Linked DNA regions of Homo sapiens. The protein of the gene in region 1 purifies or fractionates together with the protein of each later gene. This does not show direct contact. Each region holds a gene or a part of one and is shown on either strand. Other genes may lie near its edges.

The links. Proteins that work in one complex are often made in the same cells at the same time.
Region 2: the proteins of IRAG1 (region 1) and ITPR3 purify together in Homo sapiens (affinity purification with mass spectrometry; one large-scale study listed by BioGRID and IntAct). This does not show direct contact.
Region 3: the proteins of IRAG1 (region 1) and ITPRID2 purify together in Homo sapiens (affinity purification with mass spectrometry; one large-scale study listed by BioGRID and IntAct). This does not show direct contact.

The regions. Positions count from the first base shown.
Region 1 is NC_000011.10:10,574,494-10,579,705, forward strand, and holds part of IRAG1 (inositol 1,4,5-triphosphate receptor associated 1), read right to left. Parts: intron 2,083-5,212; coding exon 1,839-2,082; 3' UTR 1-1,838.
Region 2 is NC_000006.12:33,624,322-33,627,821, reverse strand, and holds part of ITPR3 (inositol 1,4,5-trisphosphate-gated calcium channel ITPR3), read right to left. Parts: exon of another isoform or gene 3,432-3,500; intron 1-3,431.
Region 3 is NC_000002.12:181,905,230-181,908,729, reverse strand, and holds part of ITPRID2 (protein ITPRID2), read right to left. Parts: intron 1-3,500.

The sequences.
Region 1 (5,212 bases):
TAATAATAATGTTTAAAACGTGCCAGAAAGCACAGAGGAGTGTGTGACCTATTATGTTGTGTCTGGTGAGGAGTATGGAAGGAAGGTCATCAAAGCTGGTATGGAGGGGATAATTTTTGCACTCGGTCGAGAAGAGTGACCTGAAGAAAAGAGAAGAACAGCTGGAAAAAAAACTAGTGAGTGGAGGTCCAGCACTATGAGAGAAACTGTTTAGTTGGGGAGCCAGAGATGGAGTAGCTGATGGGCCACTTGGGGGAATGAGACTGAAATGTGAGGCTTCCAGCTAGGAGACCATCAGAAGAGTCAAGGAGAGCACAGCTCTGGAGCCAGCCTACCCTGGGGTTGAGCTCCAGCCCCATGATTTACTACCGGGGTGTCCTTGTCAAGTTACTTGTTCTTTTTGTGCTTCAGTTTCCTTATTTGAAAATGGGAAGGGTAATATCCACTTCGTATTTTTTTTTCTTTTTCTTCAGGACTTAAATGAATTCATACCTATGTAATACTGAGAACAGTGCTTGGCTCATAGTAAGTCGTATATGAGTTTTAGCAATGAAAGCAAACAATATCAATAACAAAACAAAAATGCAAAACAATGACAACAAAACCCACATGGAAATCAAACCTCTACAAAACTGATGAAGGCAGTGGCTGTAAAAGTGGGGAGAGAAGTCAAAATGGAGAGGGGATGTGCTCCTTCAGTGTTGTGCTAAATAACTGGGGATGCTCTGAAACACCCCTAATTATACTGGGGTTGGAAACCCCATTTGAACTGAAGCACTGAGGTGCAAGTTTACTCTTGCATGTGGTCACACACAGAGTAAGAGACTGAAGCAGAAAGCACATCTTCTCTCCTCATTCACCTGTGAGGTGGGTTAACTGTTTTCAAAGAGAGAATAGGGAATAGATTGTGCTGTACAGCAGCTCAGAGTTGGCATTTGAAATGGAGACTAGTAAGTCTGCCATTGAAGCCATGAGTTTTCTGTGTTTTTAAAACATCTTCAATCCATGTGGACAGCTCATTGAACAGGTGCCTGGTGACTGCCCCACACTGGTGAAAATCTGTGGGTTGGCTTGGCATGCATCTTATTTATCCAGAGGTACACACCCAGAGCACACTTTTGAAGGGTTGTTGGCTCTGTGCACAGGCATGTTGTGTGTGTGTACACAACAGTATGTGTGTATGTGTGGACAGATGCGTATATAATAATTCATATCTTCCCATTTCAAGCACTGAGCTAAATTCAGCCTATACTTTTTTTTTTTTTTCTGAGAAGCCTTTCCTACTTCTGTAAAAAGAAACTCTCATTCCAAAGGAAAGAATGGGAGGCTGAAGTTATTGAAAATGAGATGGGAAATGGGAAGATAGTCACTTTGCAACTCCAAATTCCAGGTCTGATGCTTAGGGTGTTAGTCATTAAGCAAATTCTTCCTGATAACCAATTACAGAGAGGAAAAAAGAGAGTAAGTTTTTTACTGCCCCCTACCTCCTCCTCCCCCGTGCCCCGCTCCTTACCCCCAACCACCAGTGAAGGTGTTTTAGTTCTCCCCAGCCACCTGAGCTAGGGGCAGGAGACCTTCCCTTCCAATAGAGTTCCTTGGTGAAGGTGACTTCTTCATCCACTGGATGCTTTCCCAGGGCAGTTTTGTTGATCCTCCAAGAACATCAAGTCACTGTGTATGAATAGCTCCCACAGAAGTGCCGAGTGTTAAAAGAACCCTTCCTCATGACCTGATGGGATGGGCGGCAGTGTGTCCACACTTGGGCCTGACGTTATACTTGGGGAAAGGGTGGTAGTCTGAGTGTCTCAGAGCAGGGCACTGGCTAGGTGTGAGGTTTCCTACTGCTCTGTAGGCTGCTCATGCTGGAGTCCTGAGCTCCACCAGGAGTCCCTCTGGGCTGCCGAGCAAGTGGATCTTCCAAGGGGCCCATCAGCCTGCTCTGCACAAGAGTTATAGGAATTGTAGAGCCCCAGCACAACAGTCAAGACCAGCATCACTGCAGCCATCATCCAGATCACTTGCCAGTGCTGACACAGTTTGGGATACATGACTTGTAAGAAATGGACCAATTCTTCAAGTTTGCTGTCAATGAAAAAAAATATGCAGAGGCTTTAGTATACTGGGCACACATATGATACACAGACCCACAGTTCTCTCTGCGGATAGCTTCCATGCTGTCTTGAGCAATAGTTCTCAAACTTAGCTGTGCCTAGATTGGGTTGGCAGCAATTGTTCAAAATACCCCAAGCATACTAAATGAGAATATCCAAAGTTATGGTCCAGGAATCATTGGCTAAATTTTCCCAGGTGATTTTGATTCCACCAGTCCACAGCCTTGAAGTTGAGAGCTACTTATCTAGATCATTCTACTTAATTGTTTGATCATCCATCCATACATGCCCTCATCTATTCACGGGGTGATTACTGATATCTGCACTCTCCCAAGCCCGGGGGTACAGGATTGGTTGGCCATGCATCTTTTTAGCACCTAGCTGCATTAATGATCAGTTCCAAGCTCTAACCTGTGCCTTGCCTCAGATGCGTAATTCATTGTTCTCAGTTCCACATCTAACTGTGTCCAGAGTAGAAGGACTGTGCTAAACTCTAAGCAGCTTGATATCCAGTGATAAATGACAAGGGACTAGATCAACCTCAAGAGTTCACTTCAAACCATCCAAGAGCAGGCAGAAGATTAGAAGCCTCTAGCAATGTCTGGGTGGTTTGTTCATGATGTTATCTCAACCTCATTAATATTTATTCTCTAATTTCTCCCTCTTCCTCCTCTTCTTCCTTCACTCTCTCCACACTTCTTTCTCTATCCCTTTCATCTCTCTCTTCCTCTCCATTTTTGCCCCTTTTCCCTCTTGATTCCTTCCCAACTGTCTTTCATTTTGTCCTCTCTCTCTCTCTGTGGTGTGGTAAAAAGACACCGGGCAGATGGCCTGCTTTGACAAGTTCATTCTAGAGCTCTCTGAAGAAGCCCTGAGCCCCTTCATTAAGCCAGGATTTCCTGATGTTTTTAACCTCTAACCCAATTTAAAAAATAATATGAAAAATGAGAATACTGAGGATTCCTGAACCAAGGAGGTGGGGAAAGTGATAGAAGTGCTTTCTGAAGATCCTGAGGCTCATACACACACAGCAATGACCAAGCCATTGGCTGAGAAGCGGAGAGCTCAAATTTTGAGGTAGCAGAAAATGCATGACTAACAAAGGATTGACAGACTCAATAAATGCCCTCCTTAGAAAGGGACCAGATGCTCAGAATGCCTGCCTTGGATGCTAGGGCCACAGAGAACATTGACAGGTTTCCGTTCCATGCGGGAACCCCATCAGATCATTTCAGTCACAATTAAGGAAAGCACGAAAGTGAACACATTCGCTGATTTGAAAATCATTGACTATTTTCACAACTGTTGGGAAGGCAGGGTTTAGAAGTAGAAGGTTATTTTCTCTCAGCCCTTTGTAGATTCTCTAGATTCTATTTAGACAGAGTTGGATGCTAAAATGGAGCCTTTGGGGCTGTATTTCCATCCTCCAAAACAAGGTGCCAGAGTGGCTTCTCCCTACTCTAACCCCACTCTTAAGTGTGGCTCTGGAGGAAGAGACCAAGATCTGTCTGTGTGACCTTAGCTGGTCACCCATGCCTGGCCTATAAAAGAGTTTAGAAATAGATTAGAAATAGAATTTCTTTAGAAGTCAATTTTTGGTTATAATAAGTAAACTTCTGTTTCCTGAGAGTTATTGGAAAAGTAAAGGAACCTAAATGTCCTCTTAACCCCATAGAACTGGTTTGAACAGCCGTTAGGAGAAAAGACAAAAGTTTTATCTTGTCCCTTATGAGTCTCACTTGTTCAATGTCAGAAGACTGTGCTTTCTGTTTTAATATGGTTAAAATATTGGGGTTTACCCAAAGTTTATTTAAACTGATCCTCAAGAGAGCAATATTTGTAACATAATTGTTATATATAACAGATACGTGACTCAGACAAAAATACTTTAATGTGTGATGTTGAATCTCTTAAGCGATCAGCAGCTGGGCTGAACCCAGTGTTTTAAAAATGCAATAAGTAGGACATGGAACTCTTAATAACCTCAAACCTTGCTTGTTAGTGAGGCACCAACATTTCAGGGAAGAAATCATGTTTGAGAGCAGGTGCATGATAAATGTTACAGGCACCATTGCCACTCACTGATGACCAGGAGCTGGACAGAAAGGAACCAAGCTAAGCCTTACTTCCCCTGGGGTTTCATGAAATGGGAGGGAGCTGACAATTGCCTGAGATTGAATTAGCTAGATAAGACATTGAGCCCCTTGCTTTGCAAACCAGACTGTTTATATTCCATGTACTCTCTCTCTGTTTATTTCTCTTTTGTTCTTTCTCAGTGTTTGGAAGTGTTAGAAGTTCCAGTCTGTCTCTGCTGTATTCACGGGTGCCAGAGGAAAGGCTTTTTGTCTAGGGCTTTGCTTGACTGCATTAAAGGGGAGGAAGGCAATGTGGTGGACTGAGAAATATCAGCAGAGAACCCTCAGGAGGGAGATGAGGCCTAAGGAGAACAGGATCTGGTTGCTTGGAGTAGGGATTGCACTTTAATTGTTAAACTTGGAGGTTCTTTCACTGGGGAGACAGTGTGTGATTTGTTTTCAGTGGAGAAGCATTTCTCCAGTTCTCCTAACGGCTCTTCCCCTGAACAATGGGGTCGACCAGCATGGGCTGAGACCTCTGACTTTAGTTGAATTCTCCACCAACTGGGCTCTATTGATAGCTCCTGTGTGCCTATCCATTTTGCTTCTAATCTTCACTTCATTACCTATTTGTTGCATGCATGTGGTTTCCAGAGTTTTCCAGCAATGAGGCACAGATACATACCCAGATTAGATAATATTTCAGCAGCTGATTAGATATTTTGTCTGGAGCTGCCCTGGACCCCAAGATATCCCAGGGGTCTAAAAATAGATTTTGGTGAAGGTTTTCCAAGGTGGCTATTACTACATTTTAAAAAATCAAAATTCAAGACTTGTGGTTTAACTATACTAATAGAGACAACATAGCTGAATATATGAAATTGGGCTGTCCTGAAAATCCAGAATGTTGGCATGGTTATTATATCTGTGGGGTAGAGTAACACCTCATCTATGGGTGCTAGTTTATCCTATCCCTAAGCGTGAACTTCTAGGGGATAATTCAGGCCAGGTGGGGCTGAGACCTCA
Region 2 (3,500 bases), on another chromosome or scaffold:
GTACCTAACCTTGAGGGCAGAGGCTGGTCTTACTCCCCACATGCTAGTGCAACACTCACACATGACATGAATCATGTCTGACCCTCTGTGGCACCAAGTTCTGTTCCTATACCCCTCCACCACCACAGAAACACAAAAAGTTAGACAGCCTAAGAGTTAAAGGTGTACCTTGTCTTTGATCTCCATTTCTGGGAACGTATTACCTGAGAGGATAACTATAACTAGACAAGTGTTCAGGCATGCATGCACTAGGATGTTCAGGGCAAATTGTTCTTAACAGCAAAAATTTACAAAGAGCCTGAATGTTGAATACTAGAGTTGCTTAAATAAATTAAGGTACAGCATACCATGGCTGTGCAGCCATAACAATGGTGTGTTGGCATGGGAAAATACAGCTCACTATATATATGCAAAAAAGGACAGGGTACAAAGCCATACGTGCAGTTTGATATTGTTTGTAAATGTTCATTTATGAATATAAAAGGCTAGAAGGTCATAGGGAATGTTCATGTAAGCCATAGTGGTATTACAGATCATTTTTTTGAGTTTTTCACATTTTCTCCATGGAATGTATATTTTTTTTTAATCTGAAAAAATATATATATTTTCAAAAAATGAGTTGCATGGATTAGGCTAAGACCAAGAATCTGCCTTGAGGTACAGAACAGAAGTCTAACATCTTCTTCCAATGAAATCACAATTAAATGAAAGCCAAGCCGGGTACAGTGGCTCATGCCTGTAATCCCAGCACTTTGGGAAGCCGAGGCAGGCAGATCACCTGAGGTCAGCAGTTCAAGACCAGCTTGACCAACATGGAGAAACCCCATCTCTACTAAAAATACAAAAAAATTAGCCGGGCGTGGTGGCACATGCCTGTAATCCCAGCTACTCGGGAGGCTGAGGCAGGAGAATCGCTTGAACCTGGGAGGCGAAGGTTGTGGTGAGCTGAGATTGTGCCATTGTACTCCAGCCTGGAAAACAAGAGCAAAACTCTCTCCAAAAAAATAAAAGAAAGAAAGCCAAGACAGGTCTGAAATCCACCCAGGGAATGCTATCAGCGAGGGAAAGGCAGTCCCCTGCTCCTGGAATTACATGTGTCTCAGACTTAAGGCTCAAAGGGCCCCACTGCACAGAACGGAACAAGCTGGACCTGTGCCTTGGGTACCACTGATTCTGCAGTGCCTAAAACAGTGCCTTGCCTAGCACATGGTAGATGCCTAATAAATGTTTGTTGAATGACATTATGAAGTCTGATGAGGGCAAAGAGATGGGCCTTCTGGGCTGAGGGGCAGGTAGACCTAGCAGGCAGGCTTCCTCACAGCCTGTCAGCCTGGGAGGGCCCCCAGATCAGGGATCCCGGCCCCAGGTACTCATTAAAACCACCTGGAGAACTTTTTAAAAATCTAACACCCAGACCTTAGCCCTAGAGATGGTGATTCAGTTGGTCTGGCATGGGACTTGGGAGCTGAAATTTTTTTTTTAATCCCCAGGTGATTCTCAGGTACAGCCAGAGCACCATAGAGGATAATGCAGGCTGACGGAAACTCACTCTGAGAAGGCAGGGCCTTGTTCAAAGCATCCAGCAACGGCCAGGCACGGCGGCTCATGCCTGTAATCCCAGCACTTTGGGAGGCAGAGGAGGGAGGATCACTTGAGCCCAGGAGTTTTAGATTAGCTTGGGCAGCAAGGGGAGACCCCATCTCTATAAAAAATACAAAAACTAGCCAGATGCGGTAGCACACGCCTGTAGTCCCAGCTACTCGGGCGGCTGAGTTGTAAGGATTGCTTGAGCCTGGGAGATTAAGGCTGCAGTGAACCCAGATCACACTACTGCATTCCAGCCTGGGTGACAAAGACCCCATTTCAAACAAAACAAAACAGAAACCACCCAACAAGTTGGTGATGGAACATGAGACAGACACCCTTCCTGAGAGCTATGCCTCTGAGGTTTCCGACCTAGGGATCCTGAGCCTGGAGACCTGGGGCTTCGTCTATATTCACCCCCATACTTCTTGGGTCCTGACCTCCAGGGAAGCAGGTCAGGCTGGCAGGTAGACAGAGAATCCCATGGGTAAGAGGCAGCATCTCCTACTCACTATGATTACCCAGCCCTGGGTGATCCAGGTCCAGAGGCCCTGAGAGCTCCAAATAGGCTCCAAGGCTGAGCCATGGGTGGGCAGAGGCACTTTGACAAATGTTGAAAGCTCAGCTCCAAGACCCAGTTCACCTGCACTCCCCCAGTTTACTTTCTGTGGGTCTGGGGCTACCTCTCTGGGTACTCATAAGAGATCTTCGCCAGGCACAGTGGCTCGCGGCTGTAATCCCAACACTTTGGGAGGCCGAGGCAGGCGGATCATCTGAGGTCGGGAGTTTGAGACCAGCCTGACCAACATGGAGAAACCCAGTCTCTACTAAAAATACAAAATTAGCTGGGTGTGGAGGCACATGCCTGTAATCCCAGCTACTCGGGAGGCTGAGGCAGAAGAATCGCTTGAACCCAGGAGGCTGAGGTTGCAGTGAACTAAGATCGCCCCATTGTACTCCAGCCTGGGCAACAAGAGTGAAACTCTGTCTCAAAAAAAAAAAAAGAGATCTTCAAGAGATGACTTGAGATCCTGATGGGTCCACCCTGTGTACCCAAGGCCAGTTCTCCCTAGCCACTGGCCTGAGGCCACATTCAATCCTCCACTTTTTGTTGGCCCTAATCAGCTACTCCATCCCTGGCCTCTGCTGCTCCCACCTAGGGTAAGGGATAAAGCAGTGGCATTGGCCTTGCTCTCCTGCCAAGAACAGGCGTGGGCCTGCTTTCCCTTGCTGGCCGGCTGGCAGTCTCAACCGCTCCTGGATCCACTACCCAGATCCCTCCCATCCTTCCCACCTAGAGTTAATGTACAATCTTCACTAGGACCTCTAATTCTCCAGGAGGCTCTAATTGGCCTCGTCCACTTTGCACTGAAGAGCTCTGGCCAGAATCTGAATGCTGCCTCTGCCTCCCTCCCCAACTAATGCCCCCTTCCCATCTCCCAGGTGACCTGGCCCATCTGCCCACCAAGGCCACCCCTGCCTTCAACACATTCATTTTTATCCAGCCCTTACTGGGTACCTCCTGGGGCCCACACACTGGGCACTGGGTTAGCCCAGGAATTCAGTCAAATCAGCCTATGGGTTCACAGACATGGGCACCAACAGCCTCGGGAAAAGCAGAGGGGACCAGAGTTCAGAAAGGAGGCAGAAGGATTCTGAGGAGGATGGGGCAGAGAGAAAATCACTCAGAGCAACGCTCCTCACACTTTAATGCACCAGTCCCCTGGGGATCTTAATAAAATGCAGATTCTCATTCAGTAGGACGGGCACGGGGTCTGAGATTCTGCATTTCTGACAAACTTCCTGGTGACGCTGAAGCTGCTGGACTGATTACTTACAGCACTTACAAATCATTCCTTCTTTGACTCTTAACTTCCAAGGAAGCAGGAAGCACAGCTCCCTTAATCACCACCAAG
Region 3 (3,500 bases), on another chromosome or scaffold:
TTAAAGATAGTATTACCCAATTTAAAATTTGCTCTAATTTGTGATTTCTTTGCTCTACATAGCTCCAGGAACCGAAGTTTATGAATCTTTTGAAAACTGAAAGCACACTACTCATGCAAAACCATCACCTGTAGATCAGATATATAAAAATAGATTCTACTATTCTTTGTTATCTTGTTAAAATTAGAATAATTCTTCAAAGCAGCAGATACATGTTCAACAGGAAAACCATTGTCTTGTATGCAAGGGAACAATGTGCGTTTTCTTTTTATATTCAATAAAATGTCTATTATTAGCTTCTATTCAGGCTCGGTCTACTTCAAGTATCTTTCTGTAAAGTAAATATCAACCAGATCAAAAAATTATAGCAGAATTCCAATGCCTCTGCATTTATGTTCTAGGAATACTGGCTCAGGCACAGCATTAATATACCAAATCTCTCACTGTCATGTTTTTTTTAAATTTAATCTATTTATTTATTTTGAGACTGGGTTATGAGACTGGGTAATTTTTGTATTTTTGGTAGAGATGGGGTTTCACCATGTTGCCCAGGCTGGGGTCTCAAACTCCTGGGCTCAAGCGATCCACCTGCCACAGCCTTCCAAGTGCTGGGATTAAAGGTGTGAGCCGCCGCACCCGGCTGCTCACCTTTAAACACAGAATTATCACATATTCTATTTCCTTAGACTTATGAAATTAATCACAAAATAACATGACTTTAATAAACACATATCATCAGCATTCTATTCTTCAAGATGCTACTCAATGGCAAAAACAAATCTACTCTCTCCTTTTACTACAAACTCCATAATTAAGTGCAAGAAAGGAGCACTTCAAAAAGCTGAGACAGTCACATTTTACTAATAAAACTAAAGTTGGGATTCTTCTTGTTTACTCAGCAAAATCAGAGTACCCACTTGCTGAAGAGAGAAACATACATGCTAGTGATAATGGGTGAATTTCTTATTTTATTATTGGTCACAATTGTGCAAAAGGCGGCAGTCAAATTTGAGATGGGGTACACCACAGAGAATTATGAAGCAAATATAGAACACAGAATTTAGATTTATGTGACAAGATTTTCCCTATTCAGTGGTTTCAAATGCTCCGTAGAATTCTGGTCATTTGCTATAAGCAGCCTTTCATAATTAACAAGAATAGCCAAATAAAACTGAATTAGAATGATGAGTAATGGGTGTTCATGATATTATTTTCTCTAATCTTCAAGTAAGTTTGAAACTTTTCATAACAAAACTGTTTCATAATATAAAAAAAAAAAAAAACCACTAAACCAAAGTGATAAAATTGCATGGTCTCAATGTTTTGGGATTCAAAGATGAAAAACAGCTTTAGAATAACCCACACATTTGGGTTACTTCATTTAAAAAAGTTTTCATGAAACAATGACTGTATCTTTCTAAATCAATGTTCTGCTAAAATGACAGGCACTCACTTTGGTTTCTTTCTCTTGTTTAAAAAATGTACTTTTTGTTTCAGTGAACCACTTTGGTTTCTTAACAGCTGTCATGTTTACCTTGACTAAGAGGGATCTTCTAGGCACAATACTACTGTATTGTATTGCACAGGACAGCAATACATGGATGTTCTAACTCAAATAACCCTTCCTCTAAAGTTTAAAAAGAGACTGTATAGCTGTCATCATTGAATAAACATTGTATATCAAAATGGTTTTCAAAGAAAATCAAAACTAGAGCTTTAGAAATTACAATTCTGTCTAATTTTTAATGACAGCTCAAAAAAATGTCAGAGGAAATCATTCTTTTTCCAAAGTAGTAGCATGGTGCTGTGCATCAGATGATTAGTTCTTGTACAATGCCTGACCATACCAACATATCTGACCTTCACCAAGTTGTATAGTATAGTCACAAGTAACGTGAATTCAAGTCTTATTCATGCCACTTACTGGCTAACGGCCTCTGACAATTATCTGCGATAAATATCCGTATTTTTTTTTTTTATTTCATTTTTTTGAAACAAGGTCTCGTTCTGTTGCCCAGGCTGGAGTGCAGTGGTGGAATCATGGCTCACTGCAGCCTCAACTGCCTGGGCTCAAGTGATTCTCCCACCTCAGCCTTTGGAGAAGTGGGACTACAGACATGCACCACCATGCACGGCTAATTTTAAAACTATTTGTAGAGACAAGTCATGCTATGTTGTCCAGGCTGGTCTCTAACTTCTGGGCTCAAGTGATCCTCCTGCCTCAGCCTCCACACAGTGCTGGGATTACAGGTGTGAATCACCATGCTCAGCCTCAAAATTAAAATTAACAGCAAAATTAAAATTAAAATTTCTACCTCATAGGTCCTTGGGGTGATCAAATGTAACTGTAAGTCAAAGTACTTTCAAACAGTAAAGTAGTAAGAATGTACAACAGGAGATCCTCCTCTGCCATCCTCCACTGACACCCGCTGTGCTCCTTCCCCCTGTGAAGCACTGATATCAAAAGGAATATTATAGCCCTCAGAAAGATGGTGAAGAACCACTGCTATAAAACAATATCAAATGAGGGAGGGGATGCTTCCTCATTTGTAAAGGGAAGAAACTAGAAAATGAATAAAGTATCTCTTTCCGTACTAGTTTATGATTCTATAAATTACTTGCAAATGTTTATCTTAAACAAATACTATCGAGTTTTACACATACACACAAAAATATCATTTATTTTTACTGTCAGGTAAATTTTCAATAAAAATTGACTAAGGTCTTTTAGGTAAATATCAAATAACAAAACAGTGGTTAATTGGGCTTTAGAGTAGCAGATATCTGTGCATGTCATATGTTAGAGTTCATATTCCAGGGCAGGCTTATCTTCAAAACATACACAGTTACATTTAAAAGGCCAAAGGAACAACTTAATTATCTGTCAAATATCTGACTGATGTGGGATTATTTTAACTCAGACCAATAAACATAGAAAAATCCTAAAACTTAACAGCTAAAAATGAGAAGTCAAGTACATTAGTTAAATCAATAATTAGTATGAAGACAGGATTAGAAACAGTTACTAACACATCAGTAGCTTAAAAAAGATTATGTGTATATCCAATAATGGTTATATTTAAATAAAAATTCATTTAAAGGTCAAGAAGACCACACAGTCAACTTCTTACAGAAATGCTGAGATAAAAGTTCTCCTTCTTAAGTTTTTCCTTTACATCTAAAAGATGAACATCTGCTTGAGAAGGATCATTTTGGTTTAACTTGTGAATCATTCACACTACTAATCTATGGCTTCAGAGAGTTACCATGACGTATTCAAAATAAGCCATTCAAGAAGAACACAAGAATTAATGAAGCAAGTCATTTGGAATAATTAGAAATTCAAGAACAGGATTTAATAACTTTTTATAAATAGTTATAGGCTGGGTGTGGTGGCTCACACCTGTAATCCCAGCATTTTGGGAGGCCGAGGTGGTCAGATCACGAGGTCAGGAGTTTGAGACCAGCCTGGCCAACGTAGTGAAACCCCATCTCTACTA